Linked DNA regions of Homo sapiens: all the other regions are linked to region 4. Evidence: fine-mapped expression QTL. A gene starts in region 4. Each other region holds a variant in brackets. All regions are shown on one strand. Distances are from middle to middle.

Region 1 (5,104 bases), 51 kb after region 4:
TGAATGGGATAGACAGATAGACAGACAGACAGCTAGATAGATAATAGGGGATTTACTATGAAAATTGGCTTGCATAATTATGGTGACTGAGAAATCCCACAATAGGCCATTTATAAGCTGGAGAACCAGGGAAGCTGATAGCATGGCTCAGTCCAGGTCCAAAGGCCTCAGAACCAAGGAGTTTGATGGCATAACTCTGTTAGAGGCCAAAGGCCTGAAAACTGAAGGATTGCTGATGCAAGTCCTTAAGTCTAAAGACTATAGAACCTGGAATTCTGATGTCCAAGGGCAGGAGGAGGGTGCCCCAGCTCCAGGAGAGACAGAGAGAGAGAGAGAGAGAGAATTCACCTTCCCTCTGCCTGCTTGTCCTATCTGAGCACTGCCCACATTGGTGAGGGCAGATCTCCCTTAGTCTACTGACTCAAATGCCAACCTCTTCTGGAAACATCTTCACAGACATACCCAGAAATAATGCTTTATCAGCTATCTGAGTACCCCTTAATCCAGTTGAGTTGACGGCTAAAATTAACCATCACAGAAACCAATTGGAAATGGCTGCATACTGTATGATTCCAAATCCATGACATTCTGAAAAAGCAAAACTATGGCGACAGTAAAAATTTCTGTCATTACCAGAGGTTGGTGGGGGAGAGAAGGATGAATGGGTGGACCACATAGGATTCTTCTTAGGGCAGTGAAACTATTCTGTATGATACTACAATGCTAGATACATGTCATTAGACTCGTCAAAAAACACAGAATGTACAAAACCAGGAGGAAACTTTGATGAAAACTGTTGACTCTGGGTGATAATGATGTGTCATCACAGGCTCATTGATTGTAAAAAAAATGTACCACGCAGGTGGGGGATGCTGAAAATGGTGGGCACTGAGCATGTGTGGGGGCAGAGGGTCTACAGGAACTCTCTGTACCCTCTGCTTAATTTTGCTAAAAACTTAAAACTGCTCTAGAAAATAAAATTCATATTTAATAAATAAATGAATAAATATAGTATGTTTTTTAAAAAGTCTCCAGACATTGCCAAATGTCACCTGAGGCCAAACTTGCCCCGGGTTGAGAATCACCAATTAAATTTTAGGCAAGTTATATGAACAGTGGTTACAAATAGTGATGTGGTGATGAAGGAGACAGCAGGTGATGTGATCAAGAGTTAAAGAGAGTCACTTTATGCAGCATAGTAGCTAACCCTCATTTAAGGGAGGAAACATTTAAGCTGAGGCTTGAATTCTAGAAGGAGTTAGCCATAGGCATAGAGAGAAGACATCCAGGCAAAGGGAGGAAACTTGCAAGGCTTTGAGGCAGGATGGTGACTGGGACAGCTGAGGTGCTCCCTGTACAATAGTGACAAGTATGGCAGCAGGAGATCAGGCCAGAGAGGTGCCTTCTGAGTCACATCAGGCTGTGCCATTTCCAGTCGTGATAGGGGACTGCAAATTTAAACTGAGAGTGATGGCCAGCCCCAGAGGGTGTTAAGCAGAGAACGTCATAATCTTACTCACTTAAAAAAAATGAGGGATTTAACATTGAAACCTTGATGTGATGATCAATTTTATGTGTCTCCTTGGCTAGGCTATAGGGCCTAGCTTTTGGGGCAAACACTAATCTAGATCCTTCTATGAAAATTATTATTATTTTGAGATGGAGTTTCACTCTTGTCGCCCAGGCTGGAGTGCAGTAGTGCGATCTCAGCTCACTGCAATCTCCGCCTCCTGGGTTCAAGCGATTCTCCTGCCTCAGCCTCCCGAGTAGCTGGGATTACAGGTATGCTCCACCACACCCAGCTAATTTTTTTTTCTTGTACTTTTAGTGGAGATGGGGTTTCACCATGTTGGCCAGGCTGGTCTCAAACAACTGACCTCAGGTGATCGGCCCTCCTCTGCCTCCCAAAGTGCTGGGATTACAGGCATGAACCACTGCACCCGGCCTATGAAAATTATTTTGCAGAAGTGGTTCATATCTACAATCAGGTGACTCTGTGTAAGGGAGATTGCTCTCAGTAACGTGGGTGGGCCTTACCTAATTGGTTGAAGGCCTGAAGAGGAAAAATGAGGCTTCCTAGAGAGGAAGGAATTCTGCCTAAGACTCTAACATAGAAATTCTGTCTGAGCTTCCAACATTCGGGCCTACCCTGCATATTTTGAACCTGCCAGCCCTCCCAATTGTGTGAGGCAATTCCTGAAATTAAATCTCTTAGTGTATATCCTGTTGGTTCTATTTCTCTGGTGAGCCCTGACTGATGCACTTGGCTGCAAAGAAATTGTGGCCAATGATTAGATTTGATAAGTCCTTCAAGGACAAGGCCTGTGGCTTATTAAGCCGTGAAATTCCACCTCTTCTCTCAGCAGTTTGGATAGATGAAGCTGACATTGAGGTCTGGATTCTGGGAAGGCCTGGAGGGCTAACATTTGATGGCCAGAGAACTTGTGTAACCCAAATGCTCAGTTTGGAGACTTTATGAGACTTTGAGACTCAGCCCTGCATCCTGGGGCCATGTCTGTTCGTCATCCACTGCTCTGATATGGAGCGTTGTATATCACAGGGGATCAACAGGAAGCCAACTCCCAACCCTGCACCCGGTCCACAAAGGAGATCAGCAAATCTGCAGCACTGTGGACTCATTCAAAATCCGGTTTTTTCAATGGGTTGCTGGCCACAATTGTTTTTTCCACTGAGTCTGCATTTACCTTAGGCATGCAATCATTTATTCACCCTGTCAATCTTTCAACATAGTTC[T/C]GCAGTACCTGCTGTTTGTAAGGTTCTATTCTAGGTCCTCAGGATCCGATTGAACGGAAGTGAAGCCCTACCCTCATGAAGCTTTCATTCTAGTGGTGATGATAGGTAGAAAAGAGGCAAACCAAAAAAATAAACGAAATGATTGCAAGTTGTGGCACGCACTGTAAGGGAACCAAAAAAGAGGCTGAGAAGGGAGTGGTTACAGAGTGGTTAGAGAAGGTGTCTTCAATTCACAAGTTGAAATCTGGAAAACAGGGAGAGGTTTGACCACGTGGAGGGTGGAGGAAGCATTCCAGGCAGAGGGTGCAGGGTTAGAAAGGCTCCAAGGGAGGAAGCAGCTTCTCACTGTGAAGGATCTTGTGGAAATAAACGAAGACAAAGCAGATGAGAAAAGCAAAGGCTGTTTATTCCAAGCTTGCGGTAGCAGGGAGTCGGCTACCATCACTTGAGTTTTGGCAGAGGCTCAAAGGCAGTCAGAGGAGTGGGGAAGCTTTCATCGTGGAGAAAAGGGAAGGCTCCGAAAGTGTGCTGATTGGAAGCTGTTGGCGTGGGAAGCTGGAGGCGGCTCACTGGAAGTGGGGCATCAGGTGCATACTTGGCTTTCTCTGGTTGTTCTTCTGTTGGAAGTAGGGCCAAAAATTAGGGAAGCTGTCAGTTACTCATCAGTCAAGTCCTGGCCACTTTGGTCCTGTTATTGAGGTGTTCTTTTCTGTCTTCCTGGATCAGTTGCTAGAGACAGTGGTCTGGCTTCCTACAAGTCTAGCTTCTAGAGAGCAGGCTGGCTTCCTTGGTTGGTTCCTCTGGATAATGGGCTGGCTTCCTGGGCTGGTTGCTGCAGGTTGAGGGTCAGAATTCTGTTTTTATTTATGATCTAGCCATTGCCCATTTCTATAGTCAGACTCTCAAATCTGAACACACACCTCTGTGTTGGGGAGTCTGGAGTGCTGGGGAGAGGGGCACTTGATGAGGCTGGAGAGGAGGCAGGGGCCTGATCATACCAAACCTTACAAACCACAAGTCAGGGCTGGAGCTCCTTCTCATATAATGGGGAGCTACTGAAGGGTTTTGAATAGAGGAGGGACCTGATTGGATTTGCGTTTTAAAAGGAACACTTTTGTTGCTGGGTGCCTTATGGATTTGAGAGGCAGGCAGTGCAGAGAACAGTCAGGAGGCTGTTGCAAGAAACCAGACATAAGACAACGGTAGCTTAGACTAAGGTGATGGTATCTCAGCTGCATAGTAATCTGTGACCAGGAATCTTTTCTGAGCAGTTAATCATTTGGATATAATTTAGCTACCTGTCTCTCTCCTATAGGTGGTGATTGAGCTGCATGTTGACTTGTTATATTATTATTATGAATTAATAAGTTGGCATTGCAGTGCACACATAAATCTGTCAGGAGTTTATTCAGTATGAGCCAATTGCTAATCACCATGGGTGCGTTTACAAAATTATCCTTAGATCCAATCAGTGCAGCGCAGACACAGTGGCCACACTGTGTTCCTACCACACTGTTTGTGCAGCCATTTGGCTTCCCAAAAGGGCCCTATATCTATCCCTATATCATCATTAGTATCTTGAAATCACACAAATAATAGTTATTCCTACTAACCTTCTTCTTGCTAGGCATTTATATCCCTTCAGCATATTTCTGGGTCCGATTATTCTGGCTTGTTTACTCATTCATTCATTGAACACCTACTGCATGCCAGATACAAGGCTCAGCACTGGGAACATAATAGAAGACGAGACAGGCACGGTTCCTGCCTCCCTTCAGTCTATACGGGAAAGTGGGGGTTGGGGGAGGGGTCATTAAACAAGCATACACTCAAGTGAATATATAATTATACATGTCTGTAAGTGCTATAAAGGGAAAGATCAGGGATCAAAATGATGGAAATGGGGCTATTTTAGATTGTGTGATCAGGGAAGCAGTCACTGATAAATATTTAAATTGAGGCATGAATGATGAGAAGGAATCAATGCAGTAAAAATCTGGGGAAAGTGAGCATGAAGTCTCTGAGGAGGGAAGCGGACAGGGAAAGGAAGCAGCGCTGGCTTGGAAAGTAAGGAGAGCAACTGACGAAGAAGGTGGAGAATGAGAGTGTGTCTGGGCGAGAACTGCTGTCTTGAGGGTCAAGGCAGCACAATTCCCTTAAACAGAAATGGACAAGGCTATTTAAATTTTTAAAAGATCGCTGTGGTTGTTATGTGGATGGGCCGTGGGGAAAGAAGTGAAGGCTGAGAGAAGGTTGGGAGGTCATTGTGGTTGTCCTGGTGAGACGTGTCAGTGGTGGGACCAAGCATGGAAGGTAGAACTCAGTAGAATGACTGGAGAGATGTTTTGGA
Region 2 (5,104 bases), 35 kb after region 4:
GATAATATCATGTAAATTTTTAGTGTTGTTGCTGAATTGGGAAAACCTCTAAGTTTCTTCATATATGAAGTGGAAGACCTTGGGGCATTTCAAGTTCTCCTCTATAAAGTCTAACCTTAAGACATTCTTTGAATTGGTTACACTAATTGAACAAACTGTCCTTGGTGGTATTGCAATGTTGTATTTTTTTACATTATTTGTATTTATCTTTCTTGATGTTTGTATTTCCTGACAAATTAGTGAAAAATGTATTTTTTTTTCAGCTTGTTACACTCCTCTTTATTAACTGGAAAATCAAACAATTCTATGGTGTATTCACCACTTACATTTCAAATTTATCTCTTTATTTTAATGAATTCTGTTTTCAGTATTGGGTGAGGGGTTTTTGGCTATATTTTGCTTCTAAATGTCAGAATTGTTTCTACTGACATATTGAAATACACAGCACATACTTTTATTGTATGGACATATACAAAATTATATATATTGCATTATCAAGTTGGAATTATTTTTGTGCATTAACAGGAGAAAATTTCTGTTATGGCTAGGTATTGATGAAAACCAAACCCTGTGCTTATAATTTTGCAGACTAGCTCCCAGGTCTGTATATTTCCAGCATATTGTTATTCCTGGAAGTCATTGCTACAGAGACATAGCTAGAAAGAACTAAATTGTACTCAGAAATGAGAGCAAACTACATACATGCATACTACTAAACTAAATGTATCTTAAGTTCAATTTCCCTTAGTTAGACCTCTAACTGCCTTTAGTCTCTGATGTCATTTAACATGAAGTTCAGTGTAATGGACCGGAAGTAAAAGTGAAAAGAAACTGAATGTTGTTAAAGTATCTGACTTTTGGAAGATTTATGACCAGAATAACACATGACTAGGACTCCTTCCAGAGCCTTGAAAATGGCCCATATAAGTGAGGATCCCTGGAACCTAAAGTTTATGGTAACTCTTTTTCTGACATGTAAAGGCAAGCTGGTAAAGAAAATACTGATCAGTTAAATAAGATAAGCACTATAAACAATGGTAACCCAAGTATGCCATTTATAGTTAAGAGGCAAATGACAAATGAGGGAAGTGACAAATACACACACAACCACACACATACACATACACATACACATACAAGTGAGTGTGGCAAATACATAAATGTATATGACTTTTTAGTATATATGTGGCAAATAAATATACATGGCATATATATGCTATGTATACATATCAAATATACAAACATTTTAGAAGATCTTCTGGTATCACAATGAAATACAATTATTTACTGTTGTTTATTTTAAAACAGAAGTGCTAAGATCTGGTTGCCTTTAAAATTTAAAATTACTTGAGAAATTCCTAATATGCATTTTTTCTAAGCAACATGTATAAAGTAATAGATAAACCCTACTATAATTGTGTTTGAACATATTGTCCAAAAATGATGTATAGATAATGCTGACATTTCCAAATGATCATCTCGAAATTTAGCCAGTATCATATAGACAATAACATATAAAAAGAGAAGGGGAAATTAACAAAGTCATGGAGAATAAATAATAGAAAATGCATTTTAGGGTTGGGCACAGTGGTGCATGCCTCTAATTCTAGCATTTTGGGAGGCCGAGGTAGGCGGATCACTTACCATCAGGAGTTTGAGACCAGTCTGGCCAACATGGTGAAACTCCGTCTCTACTAAAAATACAAAAATTAGCTGGGCATGGTGGTGCACACCTGTAATCCCAACTACTCAGGAGGCTGAGGCAGGAGAATCACTTGAACCTGGGAGGTGGAGGTTGCAGTGAGCCGAGATCACACCACTGCACTCCAGTCTGGGCGATAGGAGCAAGACTCTGTCTCGGAAAAAAAAGAAAAAAAAATGCATCTTAGGAAGATGCAGAAAAAAATAATCAGAAACAGGGAATTGAAGGAAGTGGAACAGATGTACACCAACGAAACTAATCACTCTACTGGTCCCAGCTTGACCAAGAGGTGTCAT[G/C]TCTGACATCAGAGTGAGGGCCAGGCCTAACCAAGCGCGGTGATCTGTGTGATAAAGAACTCCACACAAAAACTTAAAAACAAATTTTGGGAAAAGACAGGCCCTGAACTGAGGTGAATGGTAGCATGCAGATAATTCTTTTTTTTTTCTTCATTGCTGTTTAAGTCACTCCTTTTCTCAATATTTACTTTGTGTAAATCCTGATTCCTCCCTGGATTAAGTCTTTTTACTGCATATCATTTGGTATTGTAGGGAGAACAAATGCTGCAATTGTAATATTTGCAGTATGCTTTTGTCATATTTCATTGTCTATCATCTCTTCTGGTTTGAGGATGCTGATAATATTACCTTTTCCCACAAGTACTTATAATGTTCAAAGGAAGAAAAATGCCAGCCAAGTTATCCTTATTTAATTCAATTAGTTCCTTCTATTCAACAGGTACATGCTGAGGCCAAGAAGTATCATGTTCTTTGCTGGTTTCTGGGGATACCTAGAGTAGGTCTCCCTGGCCATGTGATAGTTACATACACTAATCACAACACTGTATGATAGGAACTATAATGGAGATATCTGATCAATTATATGGCAAATCAGATGAGAAAAGTGTTGATTCTCCCCAAAGGGACACAGTTGAGCTGAGTGGAAAGAATAAGACATCATATGTCCACTGTGGGGGAGAAGGGGGCAAGCAGGAAGTGAAAATATCAGAAAAACATAGAGAAGTGGCTGATCACAGTGCACTCAGGGATGGATCTGGTGTGGACAAAGCAAAAGGGCCCCCATTCGGGGCTAATCTCACTGTCCTCTGGAGTGGTCTTTCTCTCAACTCCTAGAAAAACTAAAAGCACAGAGAAGCCACTTTCAGAGAAACAGTGGAGGCCAGAAAACAGTGCTTTGTTCTCAGAAGGAAATGTATTACACTGGCTTCTTTACTCCTGGGAAGAGGTGAGCAAGGGAAAGAGGAAGATCTCTGTTGCTCTCTATCTGAAACCTGCTAGGGCTTTTCTTTGCCTTCTAAACACAGTTCAGCCTCCTGAACAGCACATACAAATCTCTTCATAATATGAAACTAGTGTAGTATCTATTTGCTATTTTTCCAGGTTTATTATGGCACAAGAAACATCGTTTCAAGAACTTCTTGGCAGAATCTGAGGTAAAAAGTAAATAAATACATAAATAAATAAATAAAATAAAACTTTTATAGTTGAAGATGCTTGCCTTTAGTGAAAACACCAAATTCAAGATTAACATGTTATAAAACCATGGTTTTTGCAAGTTGAGGCACTTGAACACTGCAGACTTGTGAAATGACTGAAATTGGGAAGAGCCAGGACAACACCCCTCATTTCGCCCTCGCCAGAGGCAAGAAGGCAGTGGAGTGGGAACTCCTAACTCTAAACATGCCAAGTGCAGGTGAGAGCCCTGTTGCTGAGGCAGGTCCTTTGGCCTCTGAGAAGAGAAGCATTGTGGTGCATGTTAACAAAAGACTAATTTTTATTGGGTTGTTAACTTGGAGGATGAGAAACATTAAAAGATTGGCAAGAAACAGGTCAAGGAAAATACAGTTCGGTAGAGAGCTGAAGAGGTAAGCTGTGACTTTAGCCCTGGCCGCAATCTGAATGTGGTCAAACAAGCAGTGACTCTGCAGAGCCCTCACCACAGAGGAGATGACAACCTTCTGCGAAGACGGAAGTTAGAACAGCTGCTTCCTACTCTGAGGGGACAAACAGCCACGTGCACTGAAGGACACATACAAAGTCCTCTGAAACATGAGTAATATGTGAATGTGTGTGGGTGGTATACGAAAGATTTTGTTTCTTTTATTTTTCTTTTCTTTTTTTTTTTTTTTCTGAGACGGAGTCTTGCTCTGTCGCCCGGACTGGAATGTAGTGGTGTGGTCCCCGTTCACCGCAACCTCTGCCTCCCAGGTTCAAGCGATACTCCTGCCTCAGCCTCCCGAGTATCTGGGATTACAGGCATGCACCACCATGACCAGCTAATTTTTAAATTTTTTTTTTAGTAGAGACAGCGTTTCACCATGTTGGTCAGGCTGGTCTCAAACTTCTGACCTCAGGTGACCCACCAGCCTCAGCCTCCCAAACTGTTGGGATTATAGGCATGAGCCACCACTCCCAGCCTTGTTTCATTTTTATAATAATAAGCTAGATGCCAAAAATGCATGCTCAAGTCAATGACTTTCTCGATAAGTCAATGTTAGGGCCACTCTTGGGGCCATACATCCCACGTCATCTTCATCATCATCTCTAGAACTCACAAGTGAGCTCGTCATCACTCCCTTAGTGCTCATCCTTGGGGGGACATTCTCATTCCCATCACAGCAAACAGCTCCACAGTCTACACAGTAACTTGGACCAGAAACCCAGGAGTCATTCTAGATATCTCTTTGTGTCTTTACTTTAACATACAGATTACAGTTTACATCTATATCTTTGTTTACCTCTTTCTGTAAAAAACTGATATAGCTACTCCATCATCAGAGTGTAAGCTCATTGAGAAAAAGCCTTAATCCCATTTCTGTATGTCTAAGACATCATGCACTATCTTGAACACAAAACATGTTTGTGAGCTGAAATAATACTTTTACACCCAAAAAGGTTTAATTATATACCACATAATGTATGTAAGCATTCAAGCATTTTCACCTTGTTTTTTTTTTATAAAGTTCAAAGATTTTAAATGTTCGTAGTCAAAGATCAACACTCCTGTCCTCTATAGGATGGTTTGTTCCCTAATGGCTATGCAGAATAAAAAGTTCTATGGTACTCTCCTGCGATACTGGCAGGTCAGATATTTTCACTCACTGGCAGTAACACCTCAAAGTGTCATTCAGGCCTGAGGATGGTCCCTTTCTATTTGGGAGGTGTTCGGACCATCCATATTCTTAAACAGGCTCACTCAATAATTACACAGCACTATGTATCTGAAGACAAAAAATTAATAACTCTTCTAATTAGTGCAAAGAGAATTGTTTGTAGATTTATCCACCAAATGTTATTCCATTACACATAAATAAATCATGATTTTCATCTTTGAGAGTCTTCTAAAAATAGAAAACACTGACACACCTAGAGATAGATAAGAATG
Region 3 (5,104 bases), 410 kb after region 4:
GGGACAGACAGAAGAACCTGGACCATCTGGAACAACACACAGAAATGAGCCCCTGCCCACAAGCCCAAGGAATCTCTACCCTTAGACATCCTTGAAGCCAGTGCTCTGAAATGGCCAGTTTCCATCTTGTCTGTTGGTAGAAGAAAGGCTGCAAAGAGAGACTTCAGGATTTTCCCAAGCTCTCTTTTCCCAAGATTCTGTGAATTTCTCCGTCCATCTCCCAGGGGCAGGAATTCACACCACATCAAACCTCCCGACAATGCTGGCAGCGTGGCTGGTGTGAAAGAGACTCTGGACTTGGATCAAGAAGGGATGGAGTAGAGTGAGGCTGAGATCAAAAAGCAGGAAGAACAGCCTGGGGAAAGAGCTGGGGAGGAGCTGGCTCTGCTCTTTGCACTTACACCGGTTTCTACTGGACCAGCTTTAGTTCTGCAGCATTTTCCAGAAAGCCTTTTCCTGGCAACGTTGAGATTATTTCTAAAATAAACACAAACCACTTTGCATCTCTCTCCGTAGGCTGTGATGAACAGAAAGAGGCCTTGGAGAGCCGTGGGACTCAGGAGCTGGAGCCAGGCTTGAGACGGGGTCCAGAAGGAGCAAGATGGGATGCCTTTGGACTGAGACCTTAAATTCCACCCAGTTTATTACAACCATGCTCACTCCTCTACCTGCCCTGCCCCAATCGGTGCAAACTGCCTTCTCCAGTCTTGCTTCCTCTCTAATCCATAGGTTGTCTCTGTTTTAAGAAGGCAAGTGGCCAGTGAGAGCCTTAAACTACCTTAGTGTTCTCTAAATAAGATATGCCTCCATGGAGTTGTAAAAGTGGATCTTTGCATGTCACAAAATCACATATGCATGCCAGGGCCCTTTTTGCCATGGTGGGGAGTGGAGGGATGCAGTGAGACATGCTATATATTTCTTGTCTTTAAGACAACAATCTTGTTAAGAATGAAGACCAATTCTAATTGAATCCTAAATTCCTTTCCTTACCAACTGCAACAAGAGATGCCAATGCAAATCTATTTCTAGACTGAGATAGCTTCAAATTAAATTTGGAATAAAATTTCAGGAGAAGGGTCATTTCTGGCTTTCAAAGGCAAACCCAGAATCAGGCAGCCCCACTTCCTGTTAGGGTCACTTTCCCCTCTGAAAATGAATGATACATGGAGGCAGGGAGATGACAGGTGTTTAAAATTTAAACCATGTTGCCTGGGGTGGGTGCCGATCCTGGCATGCCGCCCTGGCACCCACATGATAATGAGGTGCTTGGCTGGAATCTCTGGCTGAGGGCTTTTGTTGGAAAAGGTAGCAGGCAAGCCCAAATAGCTCCCCAACAGATATAATGGCTTAATTATTACTTTAATCAGTAAGGCCGAGGTTCCTTAAAGGGCAGCTTCCTTCCCTTAGTTTTTTTCATCCCACTGGCTGCACTCACAGCTGACTGTTCTGAGCACGGTCCTGTAACGAGAGGGCACATGGCCAACTGGATCTTAAACCAGCTTTGTGCACTGTAAACAAGATGTACTCTAATTATAAAAGAGGGTAAATGGAAGAGCCCAACAGGCGGAGGAAATTGAACATGGGTACAGAGTCGGTTGACTCAGAGGTTAACTACCCATTGAAATGGAGTCTAAAATGAGAAGCGACCTTTCTTCAGCACGGTTTTCATTCCATGCTTGATCCACAAAGGAACAGATACTCCACAAGATAAAGGCACCCGTGGCTAGCGGACAGCCTTGACTTGGTTCGTTGGATTTTCACAAGCTTGCCAAAAAAAAACAAGGGGGTGGGCGAGGAGCATCTGCTTTTTACAAAGAGACTGAAATGTAAAATTAATGTTCCAGGTCTTGTTTTAGAAACATGCACCTCAGAGCAGCTAGGCTGCACTGTTTCTGTCTGAAAGGTTAGGATGGCTCATTTCAACGACCCATCCCACCCTCCCACCCTGCCCCACCTGCCTGCATTCAGCTCAGGGCAGCTTCTAAATAAGCCTCTTTGTACAAAGCCAGCGTGCCTTGCTTGCTCTGGGAAAAACTTGATAGTAGTGGCTTCCCTCCTCTCTGCCCAATCGCATTTCTGGAAAATGGATTTTCAGGTTTCAGTTTCACCCAACTCTACCCAGGGCTTGTTTTCCTGGAAGGTTCAAGTTTTCTTTGCAGATTTTTCCTGGGAGGCCTCAACTCTTTCCCCAGTCCTGATAGCTTTAAATTCTATTTTCAACCTTTGCACACGATAACCCTTTTTGTTCTCTTGGAGCCCTCATGCTGACACAATGCCCTTCCTCCTTTATAATCTGTCTGTCTTTCTATATATTTATCTCCGCAGGAATGTAGCACCAAAGAAAGAAAAGTTAGTAACAGGGTTTACTCCCTGCAGCCTAGTTGGCTGTTTATGTCTCTCTATACGAAGTATTCACCCCAGAAAGGAATGTGTACAGCTCTGGGCATCCCAGAAAACAAGCCATCCCAATGCCAGGTAACTCAGTCAAGCACAGAGGGAACTCATAACAGATATATTTTTCTTCCTTTGTTTTAGAACAAATGATGCCCGTAAGTGCTCAAATGTGAGTGGGGAAAAAGGAGGGTGTTAGAAGAAACAAAATAGTGGTGTTGCAACCGTGTTTTCTTCCTTTCCCAGGGCTCTGTGTGCACCCCACCCTCATGGCAGCCCAGCCAAGAACAGGAGATGATTCTTGACTGAAGGCTCCAAAATGACACCCCTGTTTTTGTTCTTTCCTGGGGTTCTCTGGGGACAGTGGCTGCCTGAATAGCTTCTCCAGTGATCAAGAGGTCCTGTCTGTGGTGTTCTGATGAGTTCTTTGTACTCTGTTTTCTATTCCAAGTTCCTAAAACAAAGGTGATGCATGTTTAACTGAGTATTCAAAAAAAGAAGCTTCTGGAAGCTGATAAAAATTGACTACTGTCAGTTTAGAGGCAGAATCCTTAGTTTGCTGTTTCTTCTTCCTCTT[CTTT/T]CTTCTTCTCCTCCTCCTCCCCCTCCTCACCCCCCCTTCCTCCCCCTCCGCTCTTCCTCCCCCACCCTCCTCCCCTTCCCCTCCTCGTCCCCCTCGCCTTCCTCCCCCTACCCCCCTTCTCCTCTCCCCTTCTCCTCCCCCCTCCTCCTTCCCCCTCCTCCTCTCCCCTCCCTCTTCTTCTTCTTTTTTTTGCTATTATATTCTTCCACAGAATCTTTCACATATCTGTGATGAAATTTTGAAAGTCAAGAATGTGTCTAGGGACCCGCGTAATAGTGAAAACCTGCTGATCACGGCCCTCCTGCCTCTAACCATGACAAAATCCACAAAATCGTATGTATGTATGACTTGCCCAAAGCACAAATTCTGATCCGTCTGTCCTCACCCCTTCCATCTCCCTTCCCTCCTTCCCACTTTACCAGCTAGTTTAAGTCATCCTGGTATTACTGCTTTTGCCAGGGGATTAAATTTCTTACTGCAATAAAACCTTCTCTTCCATGCTACCCTGTGAGGAAGCACCCGTCCTAACTCTATGGTCAGCCCCGTACCACCCAGCTGATCTCCTGGAGATAAGCATCAACTCTCTGGTGCTGACAACTTCCTCATCCTTCTATGTCCAGTCCATCAGCCCCAGACAGGGTGCCCTGCACAGTCAGTCCTGCCACCCCAATACTTTAGGTCATTTGGTACCTTGCTCCAACTTAGGAGGGCGACTTCTTGGTTACTCTGTTACTTTTCTCTCTCACCTCATGCCCTGCAATTGTGATCAACTGATAGGTGCTCTGGCCCAGCTTTCCAGGGCATGGCCCTTGTCATGTGTCTCTCCAACTACTCCCTGGTTGGGTCAATCCAAGACTCTGGGAATTCAAGGCCTGGCCATTACCAAGCCTACTAACTTTGTGGATGAGCCAGTGCTCATGGGAACCTGGTTTGAATTCTGATCAGGATAGTTGGACCTCAGCGTTGGTGAAGTCTTTAGGATGGGACTTGAAAGGAACGATCTGAGAAGGAAAACCAGATTCTCCATCACCCTTTTCTCATCTGATCTAAGAGCCTCTGCTCCTAAGATTCCTCTGTAGAAAGGCCCAGTCTTAAGAAGTGACTTTGGTTGGCTGAGAGACCCCAAGAAGTAATCCTCTGTGTTATTTCCAAACGGTAGAACCAAACTCAGGGTCCCAGTCAACCTCGCCTGGCACTGGAAAAAGGATGATTAGCTGATTGGCTGCTGCTGCTGGAACTCACACAGATGTCCTCTGGGTAGCTCAGCATTGCACATGAGCCCAAATAAGTGCAGGGATGAAACAGAGTCAATGCCTTCTGCAGCAGTCATCCCAATGCAGGTGGATTCAGTCAACATGTATCCCATGATGGGTACGTATTTTAAATCACTACAGGAAATGAAAAACCAATAGTCATTGCAGAGATAAAGACAGACATACACAAATAATAAAGGGCAGAGTGTACATTATTAATAATGATGTGTAATTACAGACCCAAATAAAGTGCTGTAGGAGCACAAAGAAGGAAGAAGTGACTTCCATTGGGAGAGAGGAGCAGAAGAGGGTGGGGAAGTGGGCTTTTGTCACCCAGGCCTTGTGAGCAGGATCTCAAAGAAGCAATTCTTACTAAATGAACTAAATGAAAAGTCTTTTGAGTGGCTATTTTTCTTGACTCATAGCTGTTGCTTCAGAACCTCTCCTGTCTTATATAATTACAGATTTTGAGGTATCTTGGAGGAAGGACTCCTAGGCAGGACAAATATTCTAAATATCAAATAACCAGTAAGGCACAGGCAATAGCCATGGAAATGGGCATACTGTGAACAATGGGCACAGCTGGGCTGGTGCACACCCACTGATATCATCCCCACTTCCAGGGGCCATTCGCAGAGGTAACAGATAAAGTCCAAAGAAGAAAGAAAAATAAGGCTAGAATGTACATATAGAGAAAATGAACAAAGCCTGTACATTTGGAAAGAAGCGGGAGTGGGAAGGGCAGGAAGATTAGGAAAGAAGACACAGGAATGATTTCAAGGGTATGAGAAAAATCAAGGCAGAGAAGTGCCACTGCAGCCCGGGAAACACAGTTTGAAAAAGGGGAGGCTAACGTGGCATGGGGAGGGGGAGGATCATG
Region 4 (5,104 bases):
CTTCCACAAGATTCTCAAGGATCTTAAAGCTGAAATTTTAACTTACTGCAAGAAAACTGAGAAGCAAAGCCCACTGTCACTGTTAAACATGAAACAATGTTTAGTCATTAAGCAAAGACACAAGAATAGAACAGTAAGGAAGGCTTAAAGCTTTTGTTATTAGTGGTACTGTAGAAGACAAGAGAACACTTATGAGCACCTACTATGTGCCTGTGTACTTTCTACACATTCCCTAATTTAATCTGTTAACTAAGAAGGTAGCTATCATTTATTCATTTTACAGATTAAAAAAAAATTGGATAAGTAACTTGTCCAAGATAAACAACTAAAGAATGTGGTACTGCATGACTCAGTTATATCCAGTGCTTATTTTGTGGAGCTGATAACATCTACTTTCAGGATTTCTTTCAAGAGGCGCAGCAAGTCATGACGACTTATCTTGGTGTCAAACCGGAGTGGGTTCAAAGCCAGGCTTTACCCCTTACTGTGTGGCCTTGTTCAGGTTACTTAACCTCTCTGAAGATCAGATTTCCCAACTGTAAAATTAGGAAATATTATCCACATCAGAAGGTTGTTATAAGGACTAAACTAAACATTGTAGACGCTTTGCCTGTCACACAAAAACGCTGAACTATTAATTCTCCTTAAGAAAGCCTATATGGGAAGGAATGTGTCTAACATCCCAGTATAAGGTTTTAGAAATTTATGGTTTCATTACAGCAAAGAAACAGAAGGTAAAGAAGGCCACGATTAACTTCAGTATTTTATCCCTGATCTGGCTGTATGTCAGCTCAGCACAAAATTATTTGCAATTTTTAACTACATGGTAAAATAATACAAAAAAAAATGATGGTCTAAGTATTTCATCTAGCATTGTGCTAAGTGATCTATAAAAGATAGGGTTTCTCAGCTCCTTGCTCTAAAGAAACATCCACTATCTAATTCAGGAAGGTTCTGATTCAATAAAGAATTGAGACACAGCTGAACCAAATAAATTGCATGAATGCTTAACTACGTTCGTTGTTAAACTTAAAGCTTTTAAATGGTAACGATATTTGGAAGTTTTTAAAGCGTGAACTCTGACTGTAATCCAATCATGTGATCCCATGGGATCCGGAGCATAAATGTAAAATATGCACATTCCCTGTCCGTAAAGGCTTTCTGCTACCCCGTTCATTGCCTACCCACTGTCCCTAGCTGTCCATCCCATATTTAAATCCTTGTGGGGGGAAGTGGGTATTTCCAAAGACAGCAGCATTGTAGCGACTAGGACGAGTGATAAACCGTTCCTTTACGGGAAAGAAATAAATACTACATGGAGCAAAAACATGACACGATCAAAAAGCGTAAAGACAGTTGCAAGGAGAAAAAACATGAATGAATGTGGAGGGCGGAGCCTGGGAAAACCCCTCTGCAACGCTGCACTGAACAAAGCGCTTCGCATGCCAGGAGGAGGGGGGGAATGGAAGTGCCAGCTCAGGAAGGAGCCTGGAGTGGATGCAGAGAGCTGAGGAGGAGGAGGACGAGATGAGGCGAGCGCGGCAGCCCTGAGACTCCTCCTCGCCGCCTGCTCCGCCGCCGCCCCCTCCCCTCTCCAGCCAGCAACTCCTTCCCGAGCCCGACCCCAAGGCGAGCCCGAGCCGACCCGCACCCCAACCCACCGCCCCCTTCCCAACTGCAGCTGGCGCGCACTCCCAACCCGGAAAGAAACTACCCAGGTGGCCGGGAGTAAACAGGCACTTAGAGCAAAGAACGAAAGGGAAAGAAACCCACAAAGCCGGGAGGTTGGGATGCCGAGGCCTGGTCTCTTTCACCCCCCACCCTCTTGCAAAATGCGTCTGCGGCTGGAAGGCGGCTGGGGAGGCTGGGTCCCTCTGTACCTGCTCGGCTCGCGCGCGGCGAGGGCGCCCAGAAGTGCCAAGGGTCTCCCGCACGCAGCCATCCCCTCTGCAAGGTCGGCGGTTGCACACACACGCACACACACACACACACGCGCGCCCGCACGCCCCCCGCCCGCCGAAGGGATGTGCTCCTGCCCCCCCCCCCCTCCGCCCCGCCGCCCTCCCCAGCTGCAGCGCCCCCGCCGCGGAGCCCGCGCCGAACCTGCTGCCAGGACGCCCGGCGGAGCCGCTGCCGCTGCAGCCGGCCCTGGAGCTGCGCTGCTGATGGCGGCGGCCGCGGCTCGGGATCTCCGCGACCCCCGCGCGGCGGCGGCGGCGGCGCCTGGGATCCCTCCTTCACTTGACAACCCCAAACACAAACATAACCTCCTCCGGCGGCCGCCGCTCCCCGGTCCCCCGCTCCGTCCGCCACCCTGCCGCCGCCCAGCAGCCGCCACGCTGAAGGCCGGCGACTGGCGCTCACACCACCCAGCACTGAAATATTAAACAGGGGAGCGGGCCGGGGGGCGGGGGGGGGAGCGCGGGGCGCGCGGGCGGGGGCCGCAGCCGCCGGGCGGAGGAGGCGGCGAAGCTCGCCGGCGCCCGGAGCCACGGCATGATCGCGGCCGCCAGGGAGCCGGGCAGCCGGGCTGGGGGGCGCGCGCCGCGGCGGGGCGGGCGGACAGACCCTGGGGCCGCGGGGCCCGGGGCGGGAAGGACGGGCGCGGGCTTTACCTCTCCCCCGGGGCAGAGTAGGGCACGTTTAGCGTCTTTGGGGCCGGCGGGAGGAACGCGGGCCGGGCGGCGCGGGGGAGGCAGGGCGAAGGTCGGAGGCTTTCCCGCGGGTGGGCGGGGCGGCAGGGGATCCCCGGGGGCGGGAGGAGGGGAGGCCGCGGGCGGCGACGCGTGGGCGGGGGAGGGGGCGTCCCCGCGGGGGCTGGGGTTGAGGCCGGGGCGAGGGGCGCGGGACGCCCAGGCGCCGGGGCCCAGCTGGGCCGGCGCGGCCGCCAGCTCTGACCGGGTGTAGGGACTGGATGGGCGCCCGGCCCGGCACGAACCCGGAGCCAGTGCCCCGGGTCTCCCCGGCGGGGCGGGCCCCAGACCGCGCCGGCCCCGCCACCTACCCGCCGCTTCGCCCCTCCCCGCCCCGCCCGGCCGAGCCGCCGCAGGGACGGGAGGGGGACGCGGGAGGAGGTGGCAGCGCAGCCCGGGGGGGAGGGGCGGGGTTAGGGACGCGGGGGGCGGGAGCCCTGGGTCGCGACGCCTGGGGAACCAGCACACGGCGGGGGCGGAGGGGCGGGCCCGGCCAGTCACGCGGCCCCGGGAAGGCCTGGCGGGGTCGCTCAGTTGGGGGCGGTTGGTCCGGGAAGAGGGACGGGACGGGCGGGGCCGTAGTTTCTCTTTACCGTCTCTTTACTTTCTACAGCAGGATGTGGGCCGGCCGCTGACGTCATGGGGTCTCCCGGCCCCGCCCCTCGCCCGGGCAGAATGGGGGAGGGGGAGGCGGGGGGGGGGGGGGACCCCAAGGGGGTTTCCTCAGCAACGCGTAGAAGGAAGGGGAAAGTCATTGTGAAACTTAAAACTCATTAACTTTGAAAAACAACTTTTAAAAAAACGGAGGGGGCAGGGTGTTGGTTTGGAGAGTGGAAGGGGACATGTTAACCCTGAACTGAAACCACTTTTTGGTGGCGGATGTTCTATTAAAAGAGCGAGGAAAGCCAAGGTTATTCCAGAGGCCGCTCCAAAGCCCCGCTGGTGCTTCCCAGTGCCGAAGCTGCGAGCGCAATTAACCCCTGCCTGCCAGCCTGACAGCTTATAGGGCCAACCCGGGAGGGGACTTCGGGGACAGAAAAGGGGGGTGCGGGGCTGGTCGTCGGACCGGGCTCCAGGGAAGAGGGGAGAGCGTGAAAGGGGAAGAGGGAGTAATTAGCATGAACCAAGGTGTGACCCCGGCTGCTAGAAAGCAGTAGAGAAAGCAAGGAGTGGAAATCCATGGCAAAGCAGTGAAGAGGGGCTGGACCAGGGTAACGAAGGTTTTCAGGGTTAGACCTAAAGAACGTTCGCAGTTTGGGGCACAGAAATTCCACAGGTCCACCTCAAGAAGCAAAAGTGGCTGGTTTAACGGGCCACCTCAAACTTGAGAGGAATAAGGTGAAACAAAATTGATGCAAAAAAAAAAAAATCCCTGATGAAACTAAACTGGTTTCCCCTTTTAAGGAATAAAAATGCTAAACGACCATACAACCACTAAGACAGCTGGCCATCTGTGCAAACTTGAATTGTTTTGTTCCCTTGGGCTTCCATAACGACGTCTAGGTTTTTCCTGCTGGAGTTGACCCCTAAAATTCCCCTGAGGAAATCGTACCTCTGGCTCATTTGAGCTAAGAAAAGCTCAAACCACCAGAATGGGAATGATTAAAAATGGAATACTCAGTAATGGCGAGTGTGTAGCCAAAAATAATATCATGTAAAGGGAGAAATATGCCTACTACAAAGTAAATTTGGTTATAAAAGCAAAGATCATCCAACTGTGTACATGTACAATTATGTCTAGCATACTAATGCTAACCCTACGATGAAATAATGCAATTTTTATTTTCATTGTGCTATAACCATCTCTCATTTGTGAAATGAAATGATATCCAATAGGTTGCAATCACCAAAAAAGTATATAATGTAACTTCCCAACTGGGTTATTTGAATCCAAAAGTAAACATGCATTTAACTGTGAACGTATAGCTATTAATCTGTCAGGAGAAAGGTAATGTGATAATGAGTGAAGTTTGTATCACTTTGGAAGTGAAAAATGCTAACTGAATGAATAACGTTTAACCCAATAATTGTTGAGCACAACATACTGTCAACACAATGTTTATGTAGGATTCAGCATTACTACGAACTTTCTAACAAAACATACATGCAATTTCGAATTACGATAGGTAAATTTTGACATTTCAACTATTTCCTTGAGCAGCAAACCGATATTAAACTTTTATTTGAAATATATACAATACAGAATAGTTTCCTAGTAAGTTTTTGAATTTTCTAAATGCAGTTTCTTTTCCTAATTCTGCCTACAATTCTTCCCAGATATCAGGATGCAGGGAAACCTGGCTATACTATAAAGTAGCTTCTTTAGGCTTGTTTTGTGGCAAATCCAATATATTTTCTCAAAATGTATCAAATAAACACAGCGTGGGAAAAAAATGAAGCAGAGGGTGAAT
Region 5 (5,104 bases), 300 kb after region 4:
TTGCAGCATGCCTGGCCATTGTGCAATATCTCTTCCAACACTAGAAATGTCTCGGAACAATTTCCCATTGAGCACATGCCTAAGCACACAAGGGCATGCTCGGTGCTGCAGTAGCTTAAGAAAAGATACACAACAAAACAATAACACACTGATTAAACATTTGCTAAAAGGTATATGGTATTTGCAGATTGCATAGCACTATGTTAGGCCCTTAATAGAAAATGACAACTATAGCAACCACATGATGATACCAGCAATATTTGTGTAGTGTCAAGTAATTCATCACCACTCCCACTTATTCTAGCCCACGGAAACTTCGTAAGTAGGAGATGAGTTACGTTCTCATTTTACAAATGAGCAAACTGAGTTTCTGAGGGTGGTGTGCTGGGAAAGGTTTAACAACCAGCTCTCTGGGGAAAAGATGTCAGGCTCTGATTGATAATGTGTGCTCATTTCCATGGTGTAAACACTCTCCCCATGGCCTTTTTCAAGCTGGCAGCACGTTGCTGAATGTACAGTTGGGAAGAGATGTGGACAACCACTTAGTCCTCGAGAGCCTGTTGTGCAAACTGGCTCCAGCACACCTCTGCGTTCAGAGCAGGGAAATGACAAGTCCAAGGTCACATGGATAGTTGACTCCTGAGCCCACTTTCCTTCCTCTTTCTTACAGAGCAAAGCAGTACCGGGTCATCCAAAAACTTTATTTAAAAAACAAAACAGAAATGTGTCCACATCTTGCAGAGCTGGACAAAAGAAGGTGGTCAAGAGATCCCAAATTGGTGGAAACTGTCCCCGTTACAGGAGGAGGAAGGACGCTGCCACCACTACCCCAGGGACTGGCCTATACTCATGCTTCTGTTCCAGTGTTGCTGTCTCACATTTGAAACCAATTTTGAATTTGGGTAGAAGATTCGTCTTGTTGCCTAAACAATGCCTTAACCCCATTCTCTCCCCAGAAGGGTCCTACATTTCTTAAGCTATTTTCAGCTCCTCCACACCTACTCACTTGCAATACTTGTCATAACAGGAAGCCAGTTTCATATACTGTAATCCCCAAACACATTGCACCCACACGTGGGGAGCGTGAGGGGCTGAGCGAGGAGCGAGGAGGCCAGGCCTTCCAAAAACTGGAGGGGCTGAGCACTGAGCCGCTCCCAAGGTGGGGCGTCTCCACTCCCAAGCCCAGGATTCAGAAGCCAGAATCCACATCCAGACATTCTTGTTTTCCTTTCTCATGCAGTTGCTGGTGACTTTTTTTTTTTTAATAAAGCATTTGAGTAGGCAGCAAAGCCAGTCAGAACTGTTTATTTATAGCTGTGGATATTCAATGCTGTATAAATTAGAAATCGTTGCTGAATGAGGCCCGCGCCCACTCATACACGCAGGGCCGCTATCTGTGAGTCCTTTCACAGGGTTTGACTGTACACGGTCTAAAATGGGAGAAAATGACATGCTCCGAGTCAAATGACGGAGTCACAGCTAAACGGCAAAGCAGAAAACCAGCAATTATTTTTCCCCAGCACAATATGGGGAGTACGACAGGTGCAATTATCCAATATTATTTAACAGTACCGGTTTGTGATGTAGGGAGAAAATAAAGGTTTCCGTGTCTTGGAGAGGAAAAAAAGAGAAAGAACATGCCTTGCAGCTCCTGTTTCTATGGATTAAGCTGGGTTATGTACATGGAAACTGGCCAGGATTCCAGAAGGGGAAGGGAGAACCGCCTGGCTCCCTGGCCCTTCCTCCCAGGAGGCTCTTGAGGAGCAGCACCACAGGGGGCTTCTGAGCAAAGGTGCCCCCAGCCTTGGGATACTGTGGCCTGAACACCCTCTTCCCCAGGCAATGGCTCCAGGTAAGACTGCGGGGAAGACTGGGTTTGCTGAGCCCCTGTCCGCTTAGAAACAAACTTCCCTCCTGCTTTTGACTCTCTTTCCCTCCATTGAACTACAATGAGGTCAAAGAGCGTGTGATGAGAAGGTGATCCACAAGGAATAACTTTCAGCCCCTTAACCAGGTCCCCTTTCCCACTTCCAGCACGTTATTATTCCTCCTCCCAAGCCTTTGCTTAAACTGGTCACACTCCCTAGAAAGACCCCTCTTCTTGTAGCTACTGTGGAATAAATAAGTCAACCTTCATGGCTTCCGACCTCACTGGAGTGCCACTTCCCAACTCTCTGAAAAAGCTTTTCCTTGCCCCTCCGGGGCATTTGGCCGGCTGCCTTCTCTCAGTTCTGCTAGTTAACAGCTAATCAGCTTCACACACTATGCCATTGCTCTCTCCTTCACGTATCCTCCTGGCTTCTGTTTCTGGAATGGTATGGAATGCCATGCCGACTAAAGAAAACAGTCAAGCTTTTAAAGAATTAAAGTTAGTTGTATTCAGAAGTCTTACTGAGGACTACAGACCAAGGCCTACAGCCTGGCAACAGCCTGTCAGATCCTATGAGACTGCTCCAGCCCAGGATTTCAGCCCACTGCTTACAGACAGGAAGTGGAGGTTCAGTACCTGCACAATCACATCAAATTTGCTCAGAATTTCCGTCGCAGCAGAATCCCATCAAGGCTTGGGTGTAAGAGCGCATC[C/T]GGTTGTAGATTACAGAGGCATAAACACTAACCCTGTTAAAGGTTTTGTCTTCAAAGCATCTTTCCAAACATCTTCACAGTCCAGGGCTTTTGTGAAATTCTGCTGGCAAGCAGAAGTGAGCAAAAGGTGCTTCTCATATTTGCTCCTTTGTCTCACAGCTGGAAAGAAGAGAGGCTTCAGAACCAGACCAGATCTGAGTTCAAATTCTGACTCCCATGGCTGGCTATCTGTATGGAACCTAGAGAAAATCAGTTACTTTTTAGAAAAATGTATTATTCACTTTTTATTTGTTTAAAAATATATAACAACTTCAGCATGTGAATAAGAGGACACAGTCTATCCAGAAGGAGCTTAAGTATGCTATGTAGGCCGCCAGAGGAACGCAAAAGAAGTAAGCATCCCCTGTTCCTTAAAGACCTTAGGCATGCCAGATTTTATTCCAACTTGCTACTGTCCTAAGAGAGGCACTAGTCAGCCCCTTGGAGAGAGACTCACCTTGGATAAAAATAGTTTACTCCTCTGAGCCTTGGTTCCTTGTCTGCAAAGTTAGATAATGATACCACCACAATTAAATAATAAGATTATTTAAAGTGGTGGATGCAAGTGCCTGGCTCCCAAGATCTCCGTCTGATATAGTTTGGGTGTTGTTTCCTCGAAATCTCGTGTTGAATCATGATACCCAGTGTTGGAGGTGGGGCCTGGTGGGAGGTGTTTGGATCATGGGAGTGGATTTCTCATGAATGATTTAATGCCATCTTCTTGGGGCTGGCCTCGCCATAGTGAGTTCTGGCGAGATCTGGTTGTCTAAAAGTGTGTGGCCCCTCCTCCTCCCATCTCTCTTGCTCCTGTTCTCACTATATAACGTGCCTGCTCCCCCTTCACCTTCTGCCGTGATTGTAAGCTTCCTGAGGCCTCCCCAGAAGCCCAGGAGATGCCAGCACCATTCTTCCTGTAAAGCCTGCAGAACTGTGAGCCAATCAAACCTCTTTTCTTTATAAATTACCCAGCTTCAGGTATTTCTTTATAGCAATGCAAGAATGGCCTAATTCACCATCCCACCTGCTTGATTGCAAACTCCCGGGATGAGGGGCCGTGTCTACCTCTTTATATCTCCAACAAAGCCTAACTCTGCACCATTAGAAAGTACTCAAAAATACAGGCGGACTTGAGGATTCCTTATAGCTTCTTAACCTTACAGGCATCATCACCAGTTATCTTCCACCCTAGGCTTCCCTGGAAGCTGATAGTCTCAACATTAGAGTTATTGTTTCATTTCAGATACTCTCTCCATCTTACATACCACAATTCTATTTACAGTGACGAGCAAATTGCAGTTTCATGTGGACTGGTAGTGAATGAACATTGATAGAATAGGACGCATAGCAGATACATTTGATGAAAAGGAGAAGGAGATGAGGAGTGGCCTGGAGGATAAATGGCTTGCGTGCAGGGAAGCTCTAGAGTGGATGACTAGATGGCCCTAATGACTCAAAGGAGAGCCTATGAGCTACTAGGGTCCCAGTCCGGAAGACTGATCCTTAAACAGGAGGTGGGGGGATGTTGAAGACAAACCTTGTTTACATCATAATTCATTTCACCTTAGGTGACTTCTCACCCCTTCCTGACGGATGGCAAGTGTTTATCATTAAGGCCCAGTCTAGTCTGACTAGCACATCATCGTTACCATGATGTCGTCAGCCTCTTGCATGGTGTAGTTATTTCGGGGCCATGAAAAGGGCCTCTGTTCTCACTGCCACCCTAAATATCTTGCTAATGTACAAAAAAATTCTTTCACCAATAAAGCCGCCCATTTCATATGGAGAGCCAGATTTAACATGTAAATACTTCTGAAAGAAGTGACCTATGAAACTCATGCATGTTCAATTCTCAGTGAAGGATATCTGATGATTTGAAAGCAAGTTTTAATGTGAGGGAGGGCGTGCTTGGCAGAGCGAAAATGAGGATATTGTTAGTAAAGGAACAGGTGCGGAAGGGTCAGCTGCAGACTCCAAGGACAAAACTTGCCTAGTTCATAATTTTTCACCGTGTGAGCTGCCAATAGATGCAGGTTATGATTGTTCTGCACCCCTCCCTGAGAGAGCTACTTGGTGGGTAGAGCACCCCAAAATGAAGTTGGCCCATGATTTTGGCAGCTGGTAGGTCAACTAAATTCTGCGTGCCCTTGGAGGGGTGGACAGAGGGGACAGAGCTGTGATGTGCCACTCTGTTTCCAGCCTTGATTATCTGGCTGGCACTACAGGAATTTAAACTTGCTTTATGTCTTTTATTTATTTATTTTTTGAGCCGGAGTCTCATTCTATCACCCAAGCTGGAGTGCAGTGGTGCAATCTCGGCTCACTGCAACCTCTGCCTCCCAGGTTCAAGCAATTCTCATGCTTCAGCCTCCCAAGAGGATGGAATTACAGGCATGTGCCATCATGCCCAGATAGTTTTTGTATTTTTAGTAGAGACGGGTTTTCACCATGTTGGCCAGGCTGGTCTTGAACTGCTGGCCTCAAG

Evidence for each region. PIP is the estimated chance that this variant, and not a neighbour inherited with it, causes the effect.
Region 1: its variant is fine-mapped to the expression of HIVEP1 in nasal epithelium (TOPMed, PIP above 0.99).
Region 2: its variant is fine-mapped to the expression of HIVEP1 in whole blood (TOPMed, PIP above 0.99).
Region 3: its variant is fine-mapped to the expression of HIVEP1 in whole blood (INTERVAL, PIP 0.98).
Region 5: its variant is fine-mapped to the expression of HIVEP1 in T cells (TOPMed, PIP above 0.99). The same link has a PIP of 0.9 or more in blood mononuclear cells and whole blood.

Annotation. Positions count from the first base shown.
Region 1 is chr6:11,959,038-11,964,141 of GRCh38, reverse strand. LOC107986570 (a long non-coding RNA gene) reads right to left here. Exons shown (of 4, transcript XR_001743976.2): 4 at 3,140-3,586. Among named protein-coding and RNA genes, the nearest start is that of HIVEP1, 51 kb to the left of the region's middle. The variant T/C (reference allele first, on the strand shown) is at 2,755.
Region 2 is chr6:11,974,297-11,979,400 of GRCh38, reverse strand. No RefSeq gene overlaps it. Among named protein-coding and RNA genes, the nearest start is that of HIVEP1, 35 kb to the left of the region's middle. RefSeq lists an enhancer at 718-947. The variant G/C (reference allele first, on the strand shown) is at 1,999.
Region 3 is chr6:11,602,857-11,607,960 of GRCh38, reverse strand. No RefSeq gene overlaps it. Among named protein-coding and RNA genes, the nearest start is that of TMEM170B, 68 kb to the right of the region's middle. The variant CTTT/T (reference allele first, on the strand shown) is at 2,969.
Region 4 is chr6:12,009,566-12,014,669 of GRCh38, reverse strand. It overlaps HIVEP1 (HIVEP zinc finger 1), which reads right to left and starts at 2,358. Exons shown (of 9, transcript NM_002114.4): 1 at 2,104-2,358. RefSeq lists silencers at 2,204-2,343, 2,524-3,433 and an enhancer at 3,763-4,307.
Region 5 is chr6:11,707,801-11,712,904 of GRCh38, reverse strand. It overlaps LOC340184 (a long non-coding RNA gene), which reads right to left. Exons shown (of 3, transcript XR_001743973.2): 3 at 2,506-2,822. LOC124900221 (small nucleolar RNA SNORA67) reads right to left here and starts at 3,086; the gene lies at 2,945-3,086. RefSeq lists an enhancer at 1,216-1,265. The variant C/T (reference allele first, on the strand shown) is at 2,584.